Regions from separate parts of the Homo sapiens genome. Here region 1 is linked to region 2. Evidence: fine-mapped expression QTL. A gene starts in region 2. The other region holds a variant in brackets. All regions are shown on one strand. Distances are from middle to middle.

Region 1 (8,345 bases), 58 kb before region 2:
AAATAAGTTCAGTTTCTCTATAAATTAATCATTAATGTTGAAGGGCACACTGATGCAAGACTAGCATATGGGCCCCTGTGTCAAATTAACAAAGTTTTCTTGAAGCATTAACTGACTCCTCAGTAAATGTTATAAAGGTTATAAAAGGCTTATGGAAGCTGTATCTTATGGTCAAGATTAAAATTTTATAGATTGTTTACAAAATTTTGAAAAACAAATTTAAATGACTTTGTGCTATTTTTATTAGGGCTTATTGTTTGGAACATTAAGTCTCCTCTCTCAAAGAATGAAGATGTTTGCCTTTTTTGAAATCCTTGAGTTATCACTTTAGTTAAATGAATGACCCTATTTTATGATATCAATAGTATTAAACCTTTGTTATTTGACAAACTTGCCAAAATCAAATTATAAATTATGTCTTTTTCTTACCTAATTAATCCTTTAAGACATTAGATTCCCTAAAGTCCAAAAGTGACATAATTTGGCTTATCTGGTATAAAAATTATACAGGAAACATTGTCAAATACGAAATGGTGTTTGGTTTCCTTTAGGTTGTATTTGTATAAATATGTTATTGGTATGTGTTCCAAAATCAGGGTAAACTCCTGTAATTCTAATATGACTTAATGTACATTTTCAGTGATAATTATAATTTTTATGTTAAATTGTTAGTGTGCCACAAGGTAACAAATTTCCTTGTCAATTGTGTCTTTCACTATGGCTACCCTAATACATTTTGTCATCCATGGACAATTGTCTTGTTTTGGTCCTCCTTAGAAGGTGGTTTTATAATCAGCTATAGAACTCTAACAGGTGTTCTTAAATGCAGGTTTCTGATAACTAACTTATAACAATACAGTTATTTGCATAAGTGCAGTAAGAATCAATTTTCACTGTAACAGGCCACAATCAGAGAAACTGTTTATTTTACCAAGACTTTGACTGTAATGGTGTGCTTTCCTTTAAGGAATCAAACTTGACTTATGAAGCCAATAAAAACCCCTTGGAAAAAACTGGCCTCATACCTTTGTCTACACAGCCCCTGCACAGGGTTCCTGACCTGTGGTAGGTAAACAATGTCACTTTCTGGCAGGTCCAGGAGCCTCAAGTTTATCTTGGAACCTCAAGAGGAGCTGATCACCCAACTCATAGGTATTTGATGGCACAAATCCATGGCTGGGCTCGGCTTTAAAAAAGTCTTATCTGAGATTCCTCCTATGGAACACAGTTCCATCAAAGCCAATTTAAAAGCCTTTGTAAAAATAATTATTCTTGCTGCACTGTATACAAATAATTAGGCCAAGTATAATAAAGCAAACCAGTCCTACCATGATTTGTCTTTAGTAAAAATGGGAAACTGAAGAGAGAATAATTATGCTTCAAAACTATAGTACACCTGTTGTTAGATTCTAGTTTTATCTTACATTTTTCAATTTTTATTATTTTCTACAGTTTGGACTGAATTCTAAGTTTTCTGGGCTACAAGTCTTCAAAATAATGTTTTCAATTTTTTGTTCCTTCCTTTTTTTCCCAATTTTTCCTAATTTGGAGTCACTGAAAACTAAGCTGTGCTTTTGTAAAGCCCTGTGAACTGAAGCCAGACAACTTAAACTTCAAAAGAAAATGACAACAATCTATTTACATACATAAGCCACTTTCATACCTGCCTACTGATGTATGGGCTTCAGAGTAATGTGGCCTATATTGATTTTTCCAGGATTGTTCTTTTGCTTGTTGTTGTTTGTCTTCCTTCCTCTATTTTCTCTTCATAGAATAACCTTATAAAAATGAGTTTTCCTAATAACTTAGATCCTACCTGTCTAGGAATAAGCCATCCTAGTCATGAGAGATCAGACAAAACCTGGGAACAGAGACTCATCTTCTTCTAAAATGCTTTCTCCAAAAAAATTTTTTAAAGTGGGGGTGGGGGTGTTGGGGAATGTGAAAGGAAAATATCTTAGGCCCCCAAAATCACTTAAAGGGAAAATTCAAGCTGGGAACTGTTTAGGGCAAACGTGCCACCCATTCTATTCAAAGGCATCCCTCTGCTCACTGAGATAAATGCATATCTTACTGCCTCCTTTGGAGAGGCTCATCAGAAACTCAAAAGAATGCTACCATTTGTCTCTCACCTACCTGTGACCTGGAAGCCCCTCTCCTTCGAGTTGTCCTGCCTTTCCAGACCAAACCAATGTTCATGTTACATCTGTTGATTGATGTCTCGTGTCTCTCTAAAATGTATAAAACCAAGCTGTGCTTTGACCACCTGGGCACATGTTGTCAGGACCTCCTGAGGCTGTGTCACAGGCACACATCCTCAACCTTGACAAAATAAACTTTCTAAATTTACTGAGGCCTGTCTCAAATTTTGGGGGTTTCAGAAGCCTGTTGCTCCTAGGCTGCTCACCTGTACAGCATGTGACTGTACTGAATACTGTAGGTCACTGTAACACAATGGTAACTATTTGTGTATCTAAACATAGGGCTGGGCATGGTGGCTCATGCCTGTAATCCCAGCCCTTTGGGAGGTCAAGGCAGGCGGATCAATTGAAGTCAGGAGTTCGAGACCAGCCTAGCCAACATGGTGAAACCCCGTCTCTACTAAAAGATACAAAAAAATTAGCTGGGCATGGTGGCACACACCTGTAGTCCCAGCTACTCGGGAGGCTGAGGCAGGAGAATCACTTGAACCCAGGAGGCAAAGGTTGCAGTGAGCCGAGATCGTGCCACTGCACTCTAGCCTGGGTGACAGAGGAAGACTCCGTCTCAAAATAAATAAATAAATAAATAATAAAATAAACATAGAAAAGGCACAGCAAAAATACTGTATTACAATCTTAGCAGACACCGTTGTAAATGTGGTCTACTGCCTGAAAAGTCATTATGGGGCACGTGACTATATTTCAAAACTATCTACGTTGACCTCCAAACCTGTTCTGCTGGCCTGCCTTAGATAAGACTGAGACAAAGGCAACAGGCCCATCTGCAGTTTCAAAAAATCAGACCATATCCAGCTTCATACTAACAATTTTTTCTTTGGTAGGACTACAAGCTATGTTTTTTATGTGACATTTTAAATACTTATTTAAATACCCCATAGAGACTGTCTAGATGCTTCACATTTCTATAGGCTTGAGTACAATTTTAATACTATTACAAGAGTCTTCACAATTTGGCAAGCTACATTAATGACCCTATTTAACTTATGATCCTACTCTTCCATAACTCATACACTGCATGTGTTGTAATCTGTTGCCTAGTTAGCAAATGTTTCTGTAGAATTAAGCTTCCCCGTATCTGTGGGTTGAAAATGTTTACACATCCCAGCGGACATATTTGTGCTGAATCTCAAGGTTTTTGAGGCCATGGCTCATTCCTTCTCTGCCATTTCCCATACTCTTGGATTTACAAAACATACGCATATACCCAGCAAACACAGACTGACAGTGACTCACCCTGATCTCATGCTCGGTAATCAGGTTCAGATATCCTGGTCCTTCAGCATGAGTGTGGTTCTCAGGTCTGTCTCTCTGGCACACATTACAGGCAAAACCCATATTTTAAATGTATAACAAGCTCTTTTTGAACCTAAAACATTCTAGTCTTTATATTCTGAAGCCTAGCACATGCTTGAAACACTGATATCCTTGCAGTGGCTGAGGGGTATATCTGCTTGAACCACACAGTAGAATAACCTCCCTTACCATAAAAAAAAAAAAAAAGAAAACACAAAAACACAAGATCCAAGTTTCCTGTTGATAGCTCAAACTCTAAAAGTCCTACCAGCCACCAACCCATTGTAATTTCTCCTTTTTAGGTAGATATACCCATTATTTTATTC[G/A]TAATACAGCATTACCTTTCAAACTATACATCAAATTGAGTAGAGCAGACATAGTCAAGTTTATCTATGCCGGCAAGCAAAACTCTTCGCATGCACCCTGCCATGAAGGGCTATCAAACCTCCTCTGCCCCTAGAGCTGGAAAGCTGTCCAGGCTCACACATACTTGCCTCTCTTAACCGCACCATGTCCAGTTGACGAGGATTAAAGAAAACAAACAAAAAATACCTTTCAGCTAAAGCCAGATTTGTGAGGCTGCCAAGAGCACTTTTCCCTCCTGCCTTGACAAGGCTTCTTCATAGTCTGACAAAGGAGACTAACACTCTTAGACACAAATACAAGTTGGAGATGTCTCTGAAAGGGTTCTGAACCCACGTTGGGGTTGGGTGGGAATAACTCAATGGATGACTGAAGCAAAGGGTCAATGCTTTCAGGGCTCTCAGAGTAAAGCCATGAAACAGAATAGGCAACAGCAGCCCCAGTCTCTTCTGTCCTCAAGCAAACGTCTGCAACAAGTGCGTCTCTTGTCCAGGATGACAGACAACCTCTGCAACTGCCTTCTACAATCTTCAGGCTCACTCTCCTCAGGACAGTGAAACGCTTCCGGGCAATCGTTCTTTCCTCATTCTTTCCCAACTTCCTCCCTGGGCTCCACTGTGGAAACCAAAATGCTGGGGCAGCATCAGCCCCGACGCCCCAGGCCCCACCCCAGCACTCTCTTAATTCAGATGATTTTCCCCAGTGTCCGTTTTCACACTGCTGCTGAAGACATGCCCGAAACGAAACCAAAAAAGGTTTAAAAGGTTTAATTGGACTTACAGTTCCACATGGCTGAGGAGTTCTCACAATCATGGTGGGAGGCGAAAGGCTCTTCTTAAGCAGCGACAGCAAGAGAAAATGAGAAAGAAGCAAAAGCGGAGACCCCTGATAAACCCATCAGATCTCGTGAGACTTACTATCACGAGACTAGCACGAGAAAAACTGGCCCTCATGATTCAACTACCTCCTCTTAGGTCCCTCCCACAATACGTGGGAATTCTGGGAGATACAATTCAAGTTGAGATTTCGGTGGGGACACAGCCAAACCTATCACCCAGTAATCCCTGCTTCTGTCTTAATTTGACTTTCCCCTCACACGTGGCTCTGATTCACCTTTGCTCACCTGCTGATGCGGTTCTCATGTTACACGTGTTCTTCACCTTCAGGCTTTCCTGTCCTTGTCAATTTCCGTTTAGGTGTTTTATCATTAGGGCCTGACTCCGCGTTTCAGCAATGAAAGATGAGCAGACAGTGGAGAAGGCAAGCCAGGGGAGGGGCGGAGTGAGCACAGGCGTGGGGACGCGAAAGGACAGGGGAACACCGGAGAACTCGGTCATCCGCTTGGGAGCCAGGGACATGCTGAGCTGGAAAACCTAGCCTTGGGTCAGAACTGGGCTCCCATCAATGCCTGGTACATGGTAACAGAAGGTGCTCAATAGATGTCTACCAAGTTGAATGAAAGGGCATCTCACTGTTTGAGCGTGCTTTAAAAAGCCTTATGGTGTGTCAGATGGAGGACGCATTGGGAGAGGCTGTGGTGGAGACCTGTGTTAACAGCCTGTCACAACGTTGCAGGCGATATCCAAGCCCAAAAGACATGCTTCTCCCTGTGTGTCCCTGGGGGAGTCCATCAGGTGCATGGTAATCCAGTATGAAGGCATTGGCGTTATGCCTGCATTTTCTCTCACTAATCATGTTCAGCTCTAGTTGGAGACATAGGTATATATAATCTGTTCCTTTCCATTTAAAGAAATTGGCTACTGGTGTAGAAATTGTACATGAACAATCTCATTTATGAACATCATAATTACCCTGGTGAAAGGACTGGCTGGGAGAGGCATGGCATATTCAGAAATCCTCAAAGCCCTGGAATTGGATCAGGGAGTCCAGCCAGAAACCTCCTCCCCTGACCCCGCCTGCCCAGGCCACTGCCCTGGGACAGGACTCACAGGCAGCACAGCTGGTGCCTCTGCTCCCGCGGGGCCCTGCACACACCAGCTCTGGGTTTGTTCTTGTTTGGATAACATGCAGAACTCACCATCACTAGACTGTGACTGGGTTGAAGGACAAGGTCTCTTCCTCATCTCCCAACTCACCTTGTAGCGTAGAGCATGTTCTATGTGATGCCTGCAAAGACCAATTGAACACGTATGCATTCACCGGGAATGCCCTGTGATGGCTGGTGTCTGTGTCTGATGAGTTGGTGCCTTGTTCTTCTGGCAAGAGAACCACATGCCCTGGGGTGGACATACAACCTGCACAAGATGACTGTAGCTCTCTACCCCCGTCCACAGTGACGGTGCCAATGGTGCTGTGCTGGAAAATGGTTAACAACCAGCTCTTGTGTGGCAGGGGAGGCAGTAGGTGGGAGGAAAAAAAGCCCTGATTTATAGTTCTGCCGATTTCTATGGTGCAAATATTCCCACAAATGTCAGTGCCAAGCTATCTATATGAAATCAATGAAGAAGAAGTTGGGAAGAGATTACCAAATTACCAGAGCTCCCTTTTAAAACATGCACGACTCCCTCTGCTGGCATGATGGTCTGACTAAGTGGGGAAATCACAGCAAGAATACCTTTACTTTACGTTTGTCTAGCACCTTACAATTTATTTCCCTCATCTTACAATTAAAAAACCAAACCCAGGTAAGTTGACTGTGTCACCAAGGTGGTTAGGCCACTGTTCAGAAGCCAAGACTCCAGGCTCCAAGTGCGTGTTACCATAACACCGGGGCAGGATCCTCCGCTCCACGGCCCTAGCACAGTGTATCCACATCAAATCTACTCAAAAACAGCCACTTGGAAGCTATAAAGGGAGCCATAAGGATGCTAGAAAATAACTGCTGTCCTCAACACTTTCCATATCATGTAACCATATACTCTGAGGTGGCAGAGGTGAAAAAACACTGTTATCTACCAAACAGTATGATAAAACACTGTATCTACCAAACAGTATGATAAAACACTGTATCTACCAAACAGTATGATAAAACACTGTATCTACCAAACAGTATGATAAAACACTGTATCTACCAAAGCGTTTCTAGGATTTTTCCTTCAAAACAGACTGTGGAATTGGAGAATACTTTTAATCTAATATTTTCCCTCCTTTCAGGAGAACCAGAATAGGACCAGAGAAGGGAGTTCTCAAAATGTTTGACAATGCCTCAGATCCCATCTGGGCCCAAGATAAACTGAAATAGAGAAAAATACAAAAATATTTTTTGCCATTAGGATTTCCTTGCTTTAGAGCTTGTTTTCATAAAACTATTTCCCCCTTACTTTAAGTGTGCTATATAAATTCTATCTCCAGTATGGTGAAACCAAAACCCATAGCTAAGGCAGTGGTCTTTCAATGTTTTTGATTCCTTAAAAAAAAAATTAAATATGCACCATTAGCATATACAACTTTTATATATGTAAAATTTGTATTTTATATAATTTAAAAAATATATAAAATGTCCTATCCAGACATTTATGATATGATAGAATATGATGGCATGATACGAGATGAGATAAAAGGAACATAAATAGAAGCTCTCAGGTTTGTTTTTTCTATACCCCAATGGCTTGTCTTGTTTACCTCCTGGAAATATCCACTGCACCATGAAGACCACACACGATCGCCTTATAACCTTACAAGACACCAAAGTCAAACTCACAACCTAATTTAAAAGCCGTAACTTAAGTCAGAAGTGAAATTTAATGCTTCCAAAAACAAATGGGCACTTTGCGAATTAATTTATTTATAAACCATATGAATAGCTAAGACAACTTGACTTAAGCCAAGCATCCATTCATACAATTCAGTATCACATGTGTATTCCTAAACTTGCTGATTCTTTAGGGCCACCTGTTTGAAATTTAGAGTGACTAAATTCCCTATTTAAAACGTAAGGTCATTTCTTGTACCAGGGACACAGATTCACAGTAAAAAAGATAGACAGAGATAGATAGATAGATAGATAGATAGATAGATAGATAGATAGATAGATAGGCAGGCAGGCAGGCAGGCAGGCAGGCAGGCAGGCAGGCAGGCGGCAGGCAGGCAGGCAGGCAGGCAGGCAGGCAGACAGACAGACAGACAGACAGGCAGGCAGATAGATACATTTAAAAAATAAATGGATTATTACTCAAAATACACAAGGCTTGCTATCACAGTTACATTATTCCTGTTAAAAAACTTAGAACTCCAGTGTCCTTGCTTATCACTCTCCATTGAATCAGCTTCATGAGACTGATTCATTTGGATATTTAATGTGCTTCCAATCACCAGGTATGTCAGCCACACAGCCTGCGCTATCACCAGATGACCTGAGCTAATAACACACTAATGTCATCATCAGACCTCATTCCTAATACCTCCTTCTTTCTCCTAAATAAACAAAAATGTGTTGGCATGAAGGGTTCATTTTGGAATAAGCATCATATGGAAAAGTTTAGCCAAGTAAAAGCCCAATTCTAAATA
Region 2 (8,345 bases):
TTTGAAAACTATAACTATTTAAACTGTATCTTGTTTTGCTCACAGTTGCATCTGTGGGACCTGACACCTATTAAACACGTAATAAACAGCTGTTGAAGAAAGAGTTCATGCTTTAAGCTTCCTCTTTCCTACAGCCTGGCAGCCACTGCAGACCTTCCCAAGCCCATGCATGAAGCCAGGTTTCAGAGTTCCAGCGCTTCCTTTCCAAACTGATTCTCACACAAAGAATAATGAATTTGAGTTGCCCAAGCTCTAGGAAATGTTACATGATTATTATGATTATATTTCAAAATAGGAGTGATGAAAGGCGTTTCACCAAAGATTTAGAGGTCAAACACCATTCAGAAATGTGAATGTGGGCCAGGCACGGTGGCTCACGCCTGTAATCCCAGCATTCTGGGAGGCCAAGGCAGGTGCATCACCTGAGGTCAGGAGTTCGAGACCAGCCTGGCCAATACAGTGAAATTCTATCTCTACTAAAAATACAAAAAAATAAAAAATAAATTAGCTGGGCGTGGTGCCACATGCTTGTGATCCCAGCTACTCGGGAGGCTGAGGCAGGAGAATCGCTTGAATCCAGGAGGGGGAGGTTGTGGTGAGCCGAGATCACGCCATTGCACTCCAGCCTGGGCGACAGAGCAAGACTTCATCTCAAAAAAAAAATAAATGTGAATGCGGCTTTGTCCCATAACCATCAGACCTCCTTTCCAGAATAAAGGAGACTGCACAAAACGTGTGACATTTACCAAACCCTCATTTGAGCATCCAATAATTTAAAACAATGGCAATGGCAGGAATTATGAAGATGACATTCCGGGTAAGTTCCTGGTTGCGTCTTCCCCAGTTTCATACCTGTTTAAAGTCTAGTGTAAGTCTGGCCTTTCGTTGTTAAGCTGAAGCTAAAAAAGTATTGGATTAGGAAGGATTCTGCCTTCTGTTCAGTCTTCTAACAGTCCTTCTTTTTCTGATTAAGAAAAACTTCTGTCCCCAATTTACATCTACTTATGCTTTCAACCAGCACAGAGTATACCTGCTCTACTTCTATACTAAAGACTGACTTCTCCCTTCTTGGAGTTAAGAACCCTGAACCATGATCCATTTCTTACCATCCACCTTTGCTATCTAAGACACCCTCTCCTTCTTCCCTTGAACCGTCTGCCTCCTCTCCTATAAAGCTTCAGCAGCAGGATGAAGACTCTCTAGTATTCTTCTCATACTAATTGCGTCTCCTTGACTGGCTGTTGCCTCCCCCTTCCTTCCAGCTGGGTGCTCTGCTCTTCTTTTCGCCACCCGTTTGGTGGATTTTAAGCTTGAGAGCACAGACTACAACTGCTGCCTTCTTCACCAACTTCACAGCAGAGCCTTGCAGACAGTAAAATCCCAATAAAATGACGGCTGACTCACCCTCTGGGTGTCACCTCTGTCAGCCTCTTCCATGGGACCCTACGTTTACTTTATACTCACAGCTCCACTTACCTTCCCTAGGCCAAAGCTGCTAACTGCTTTAACCTCTACTCAGCATCTGAATATCAGACAGTGTTTTGTTTGTTTATTGGGTTTGGGTTTTTTGTTGTTTTTGTTTTGGCTGTGCTTCTGAGGAAGTCTTGCTCTTTTTCCTTTCAGTTCTATTCCATTAGGCTTTTTGCTGTGAAATTTTGAATCTGGAAACTCAAGAGAACCGACATCGCAGACTTTGATTTACATGCTGTCAATCTGCTTTGGAAGGTCATGTGGCAAATCTGCCCTTGAGGACCATTTTCAGACAGGAAAAACAGTAATTTCAGCCTGGCTGCTTTTCAGAATTCTTTGCAAACATCAGATGCTCACAATCCAACCGTTTCTCTGTGTACTAACATGTGCTTTTCAAAATGAGTGTCATATTCTTTTTAGTAATACTTTTCTGTGTGTTATGCCCTTTAAATAGTTCTCGTCTTTAACTCCATGTGGCTCTGGTTTGTTTTGTGCCATGCTATTTTGCCCCATTTTCAGGTAACTTTTCTACCTGAATTACTTAGGACCTCTGGATTTATAGCAGATTTGATAAGACATAGATGATAGCATATTTAGATAAGGATCACAGCAAACAGAACCTCACTGAAACCACCCATTCTTCCTGCTTCCACATGGCAGGGTTGCTCAAGGTTTATAAGTAATGATTTTGGCTTTAGCAGCCGGAAGGTATGAGGGCTAAGTGACCTTCACACATGTTTATCTTAAATTATAGATAATTTTAAGAGTCATGAATGGGATTACTACTTATCTATTTTATAAAAGCTAATTATTTGGGATGCCCATCAGAAGAATGGTATCCCTTATCAAACGCTTCCTTAGACGTACTGAATAAAAGCATCAGTTTAGCCGGTACCTGTTAAGAGGCTATGTCTTTCTAAGAGATGTGTTATTTGATTCTAATTATAATTAACTTTGCTTATTACTAAGTAGATAATAATTTTCTCATTTCATATTTTTTCTGAATAACAGTTTTTCTCCCCATAGAGAATATTCAGAAGATGGAATCCTTTTAACGTAGAACTCAAGATGTGCCCTGTTCTCCCTGCCCGCCTCCCATTTCCCTAAACACACACACACACACACACACACACAAACACACACATTCTCCCTTCTCTCAAGATACTTTTTTTCCAACTGAGAGTCGTTGACTAATCACAGATGAGTTAATCCTTCCACAGTTTTGAAAAAGTCTAGCAACCCTCACCTTGAAGAGAGTGAATAGCGTGGCTAATCCATCTAAGAACAATGCACGAAAACGAAAAACGGAGAATCCTGCCCGGCAGTTAATTTGTTACTCATACTTGTTGAACTTAAGATTTGGAGCTAAATAAGTGCAGATGAGAGCAAAGACCCATCTTTTAAATATTTAAGCTTTTAGGCAAACCTGGGCAGGCAATATCACATTTATCAGTGCGAATTCTCCAATGCTCTCTAAAACTTTATTTCAATGATCTCACCTCCTGTAAGGAATTAATTCCCCCTTAGCTTGACCACAGGATCAATATCTTATCTTAAGAAGTGTTTAGGTTTTCTAAAAAAAGACCAGACACTGAAGACTTACATAAACATCAAAGCATTCTTTTTTTAATTCCTCGATATGGAGAAATTCATAGGCCGAAAATTAGGTAAATAGAGAGGTAATTACCAATGCCTGTTTCCTTGACAACTCCCCTCCCCCACCCCTCCTGTGATAGGGAAAAACCAAAATGAAAGTGAGGAGGGGTAGCCACAAGCCATGCTGGATTTTAGCAAACCAAAGCAAGAAGCAGAGCAGAAAGCTGCAAACTAGACACAAAATACAAATAAATCAATGTATATCGGGGCTGCATATTGTGTAGTATTTTTGTGGTTGCCATAGAAACGTCAGCGACGGAAGAACATGTTGCATGACACAAAAGAGAGCAATATGTAATAGGAACATTCCCCCCACCACCACCCCCCGCCCAGCTTCGTCTATAGCAGAGAAAATGCTTTAGCCCCGGGAGGGGGCTGGGTGGGTGGGTAAATGAAGCCAGGAACAGCAGCTTGAAATCACAGCCCAGAAAGGGACGCTCACCCGGCCCAGCACAAAGCGAGGGTCCTTTTGTACCAGCAGAGCCTCTCTTCGCCTCCCTCCAGGCGCCCCCTGCACCTTTCCCCCGCCCGCCTTGCACTCCCCCCCCGCCCCCGGAGCCTACCCCTTCCAGAGGTCCTAAGGAAATCCAGCCCAGGAGAGAAAAATATGCTGGGAAGAGGAATGCAAACATCAGCCACACCCAGCGGGGAAGGTGCCTGCGAACGGCACCAGGACCACATACCTCCTTCCTGGCAGCCTTTGGCACATGGACTTAGAAACCAGAAGCTGAGATGGAGCCGGCTGGGTTCAGAAATTGCCACTAGTTTATAAGAGCTGTAAGTCAGCCAACACTGGAAAGAAAAAGCGAGACTCCACCCATGGGGTGGACCCTTCAGGAAGAAAAAAAAAAAAAAAGTGGTCCTCAGCTGACGTCTCTCCCCACCCATGTCACTTCCTTTTAAAGCTACAAGTTAGCAGTTGCCGAGAGGGAAGAGCGAGCTGGTGTAATATGAGTCACTCCCTTCCCCTTCCAATTAGTGTAAGGCAGTGCTTCAGTTGGCTTCACGTTTGAAATCGCTTTTGAAATCTGGCTCGGGAAGCTGCCAGGATAAAAAAAAAATGAAAGCCCCCTGGAAGTGGCCTTGCTTTCTCTCCCCTTTCTCCCAAATCCTGTTGCATCCCTGCGCCCTAACGGCTCCTCTAACCTCAACCCAGACTCCGGCTCCGTCTGTGTTGCAACCTGGAAATTGTCCTCAGTTGGCTCATTTTTAATTCAGCAAGCGTAGGATCAATATGCCCACCCTCAAAACTCTCCCCTCACCTCTCCTCGGTCCGCTGTGCTGGAAGGAGATTGCGTTGCACTCAGAAGAGTCCAAATCATCTTAAACAAAATAAGCCTCAGCACTCAAGAGATTGAGATGTTATGAAGTGGGATGAAAGAAGCTTGGAGGTCGATTGATGTATTTTCTGTTTTCAAACCTTAGCACCATGGTTGATTACCACTGCACAGGCGTGCACACACGTACTGTCGCATGCTCACATGCACGTGGCATTTACACAGGTGTATCAGAGAGGGTCTGGGCAGACCTTTATAGTAAAAGTGTCTTCACAATTTTTAAAAAGGGTGGGCTGTTGAAAGTCCAGAAATGCCAGGATCTAGAAAATTATTTCAATTTCAAAATACTGAGGTGTATTCCTTTCAAATGTCCACTATTACAGCCATTGTCAAAATAATATTTAACTATTTACTTGACTCCTGGGTTAACCTTGTTCTTTAGATGTTTATAATCTATAAAGGAAAAATACATGTGCTCACAAATAGCCCAAGCACATTGCAGAATTACTAACAGCTATGCAAGTGTCAAAACCAGTGTGTCATGAAGACAGAATAGAAAGTGCTTTTTTGATTGCGATGGGGGAAGGCATTGATCATTCAGGAAACAGGGTTTGGAGTGGGTCCTATGGGAGGTGGCATTTTTCTTGTCTGTGATGAGAGACGGGGAGAGTGAAGCAGAATGTGGTGGAAGAGAAAGGATATGTGAGGCAAACAAAAAAAGGATCAGAACAGAAACCCATTTGTAGCAATAACTTGTTTTAATATCCATGTGAAAATAAATTTGACCACAGAGTAATGCTTATAAAAGATTTTTATAAAAAGTTCCTTGTAGTCATCATCTCTCGTAACTTTTCGAACTATGTTTTACGACCCATGTGCTTCTAGATTTGGTGGAAACTTGAGTTTTTCAAAGTGTTTTTCAAGTAGAGTTACACTGTTTTTCACGGTTGAATTCTGAATGGTAATTTATTTCAAAACCTACAAATTGCATAAATTCCTGATAATGTTATAAGTACAGTCAGTGATTTCAGTGGAAATGATAGGAAATTTAAAATTTGGACAATTGTAACTTTTATCCTGATCTCAGTACTTTAACATCCTCATTCCATTATTACATTACAATTATTATTATACTTATTATTGCTAACACTTTGCCTGTCTAGACAATGTTGCTCAGTCCCAGTTATCTCAGATATAGCTGAGAAATATGGGAGAAAAAGTTACTATTTCTAAAAATTTAACATAGAAATTCAAAATTCATGGATTAAATCCTATGCTTTTTTTTTTGAGACAGAGTCTTGCTCTGTTGCCCAGGCTGGAGTGCAATGATACGATCTCAGCTCACTGCAACCTCCACCTCCTGTGTTCAAGCAATTCTCGTGCTGCAGCCTCCCAAATAGCTGGGATTACAGACATACACTACCACACCCAGCTGATTTTTTGTGTTTTTGGTTGAGACGAAGTTTCACCATGTTGCCCAGGCTGGTCTCTAACTCCTGACCTCAGGTGATCCACCTCCACCTCCCAAAGTGCTGTGATTACAGGCAGGGAGTCACCACGCCCAGCCCTATGCACATTATTGAGTGCCATTTAGAGTCTATCCTTATGTGCCCTTATTTAGCTATTTCTATCTATACAAGGAATTGTGAATATTTCCAGGTCACAACGTAACAACTCAGTTCAATGTATGTTTATTGAGCATCCATGTTAGTTGCTGAAGATACAAAAACACAGATAAGACATGGAAATGGCCCCAAAGTGCTCAAAGTCTTAGAAGGGAAAGCGAAATGTAAACAGTTAAGACACAATGGAGGCAATGATTGACATTTGTACAAGATTCAGAGGTGGTTCGAGAATGGGAAAAGGAGAGGGAGGATACATCTACATAGTTTCTTAGCTAACAGTGGACTCTAAAAGGGGTGGAGGTGGACAGTATACTCATCCGTGAGATGGTAAGAAATAAATACTGGCAGTTGGAGAGAGGAGAAAAAAATTGAAAAGGAGACACAAATCATAAATTGGTAACCTAAAAAAGATATATAAGTGGTCCGTAAACAAAGAGGCAACCTTACATAAAAATACAAGTCACAAAGTAAGGATGTTATTTCTTTGCCTAGTCACTTGTCCAACACTCAAAAAGCTAGAACGTGCAGTGCAGAGAATGCAATGCCATGGGTTCTCTCTTCTGCTGGTGATGGCAAATTGATACAATCTCTGGAATTCAATTAAAGAAGATTTTTCATGAGCCTTTAAAATGTTCATACCCCTTAATCCAATAATTCGACTCAGAATAATTTATACCAAGGACATAAGCAGAGATAAATTCAAAGATTTGGGAACATGTATATTCATCAGAGCCATTTATAATAGTAAAGTCTGGAAACCATCTGAGTGTTTGAAGTAGCAGGTTAGCTATGGAAATGATGTAATCTTCATATGATGAAACACTCTACAAAAAATTAAAATTCTGTGTTTGAAAGACCTAGGGAAATTCATGGTATCTTAAGTGTAAAGGGAACTAAGCTTTATATAAATTATGGTCCCGTTTTCGTGATTCTATAAATATATATTACAGTGTGTGTAGTGGGTTGAATAAGTGTCCCCCAGTGTCCCCCACAAATTCATGTTCACCCAGAACCTCACAATATGAATTTGTTTAGAAACAGAGTCTTTGCAGATGTTAATCAGCTGAGACGAAGTCATTCTGGATTAGGATGGGCTATAGACCCAATACCTGGTGTCCTTATAAAAAGAGGAGAGGATGCAGAAAGACACACACATAGAATAAGGCCATGTGATGGCGGAGGTAGAGATGGGAATGATGTGTCTATGAATCAAAGATTGCTGGCAAACACCAGAAACCAGGAGAGACGCATGGAACAGACTCTCTGAGAGCCTCCAGAAGGACCCAACCCTGCTGATGCCTTAATTTTAGATTCCTGGCCTCGTGAACTGTAAGAGAATAAATTTCTGTTGTTTTAAGTCACACAGTTTGTGCTAATTTGTGATGGCAGCTCTGGGAAACTTAATGCAGTGTGATGAAGATCATGAAACTGTTAATAATCATTACTTCTGGAGAGTGAGATTGAGGATGATTTTTATTTGCTTCTTTATATGTGATTGCACTTTGGAGAACTTTCTACAATGGATGAACACGTGTGACTTTTACAGTAACAAGATTAGGACTAAAAACCAAATAACCTAGGTTTCTGAAACTGTTTCTGCAATTTAGAACAGACATAAACAATAATCAGTGATGCTTACGACACGGTGAGTCCTGAGGAGTAACATATTTTCAAAGCCCAGTGAGAGGTAGAATTCTGCATATCTCAGAAACTTCTTTAAACCTAAGTTTTGGTACTTAAAATGATAACTATCACTTATCTGAAATGTGAACTTACACACTATGTATTAACTGTTGTGCTAGATAGTGGAGTCACTGATGGCATTGTTACAAATTGCCCATTCTGTTAGCACAATGTTATTACACATTAACAGTATTTTTGCTTTATTTCCACTTGCCTCGTGTTGTGAACATTGATACAACATCCACACAAACCTATACACTGAGTTTAAAAATGTTCTCAAGTTATACAATATGAAGATATAGATTTGCAACTATGATGACCTCATTATGTGCTACATTGGAAATTGTGGCTGCTTAGAGGAGACAAAGGAAAATTGTAAATGCTAAAGTTAATTTGATATTTGGGGTCTATAATCTTATATTTAATAGTTATATATGTCAATAAAAACCCAATAAAGTTCTTAAAATGTTGTATGTTTTTATGACCAACAAACTCTTACGGCTCTCGTTATTATTACAATCATTTCAAGTACGATCAAAGAGGTGTAACATTAATATCATTGGGGAAAGTGCAGAGGAACTAAGAAAAATTTCCTCCTTTGCCAACAATGGTTATGACCTAAGTTATTCCCATA

Evidence for each region.
Region 1: its variant is fine-mapped to the expression of AGPAT4 in whole blood (INTERVAL, PIP 0.96).

Annotation. Positions count from the first base shown.
Region 1 is chr6:161,212,001-161,220,345 of GRCh38, forward strand. The region is part of intron 2 of AGPAT4 (1-acylglycerol-3-phosphate O-acyltransferase 4); the gene reads right to left. Among named protein-coding and RNA genes, the nearest start is that of AGPAT4-IT1, 54 kb to the left of the region's middle. The variant G/A (reference allele first, on the strand shown) is at 3,842.
Region 2 is chr6:161,270,129-161,278,473 of GRCh38, forward strand. It overlaps AGPAT4 (1-acylglycerol-3-phosphate O-acyltransferase 4), which reads right to left and starts at 3,933. Exons shown (of 9, transcript NM_020133.3): 1 at 3,810-3,933.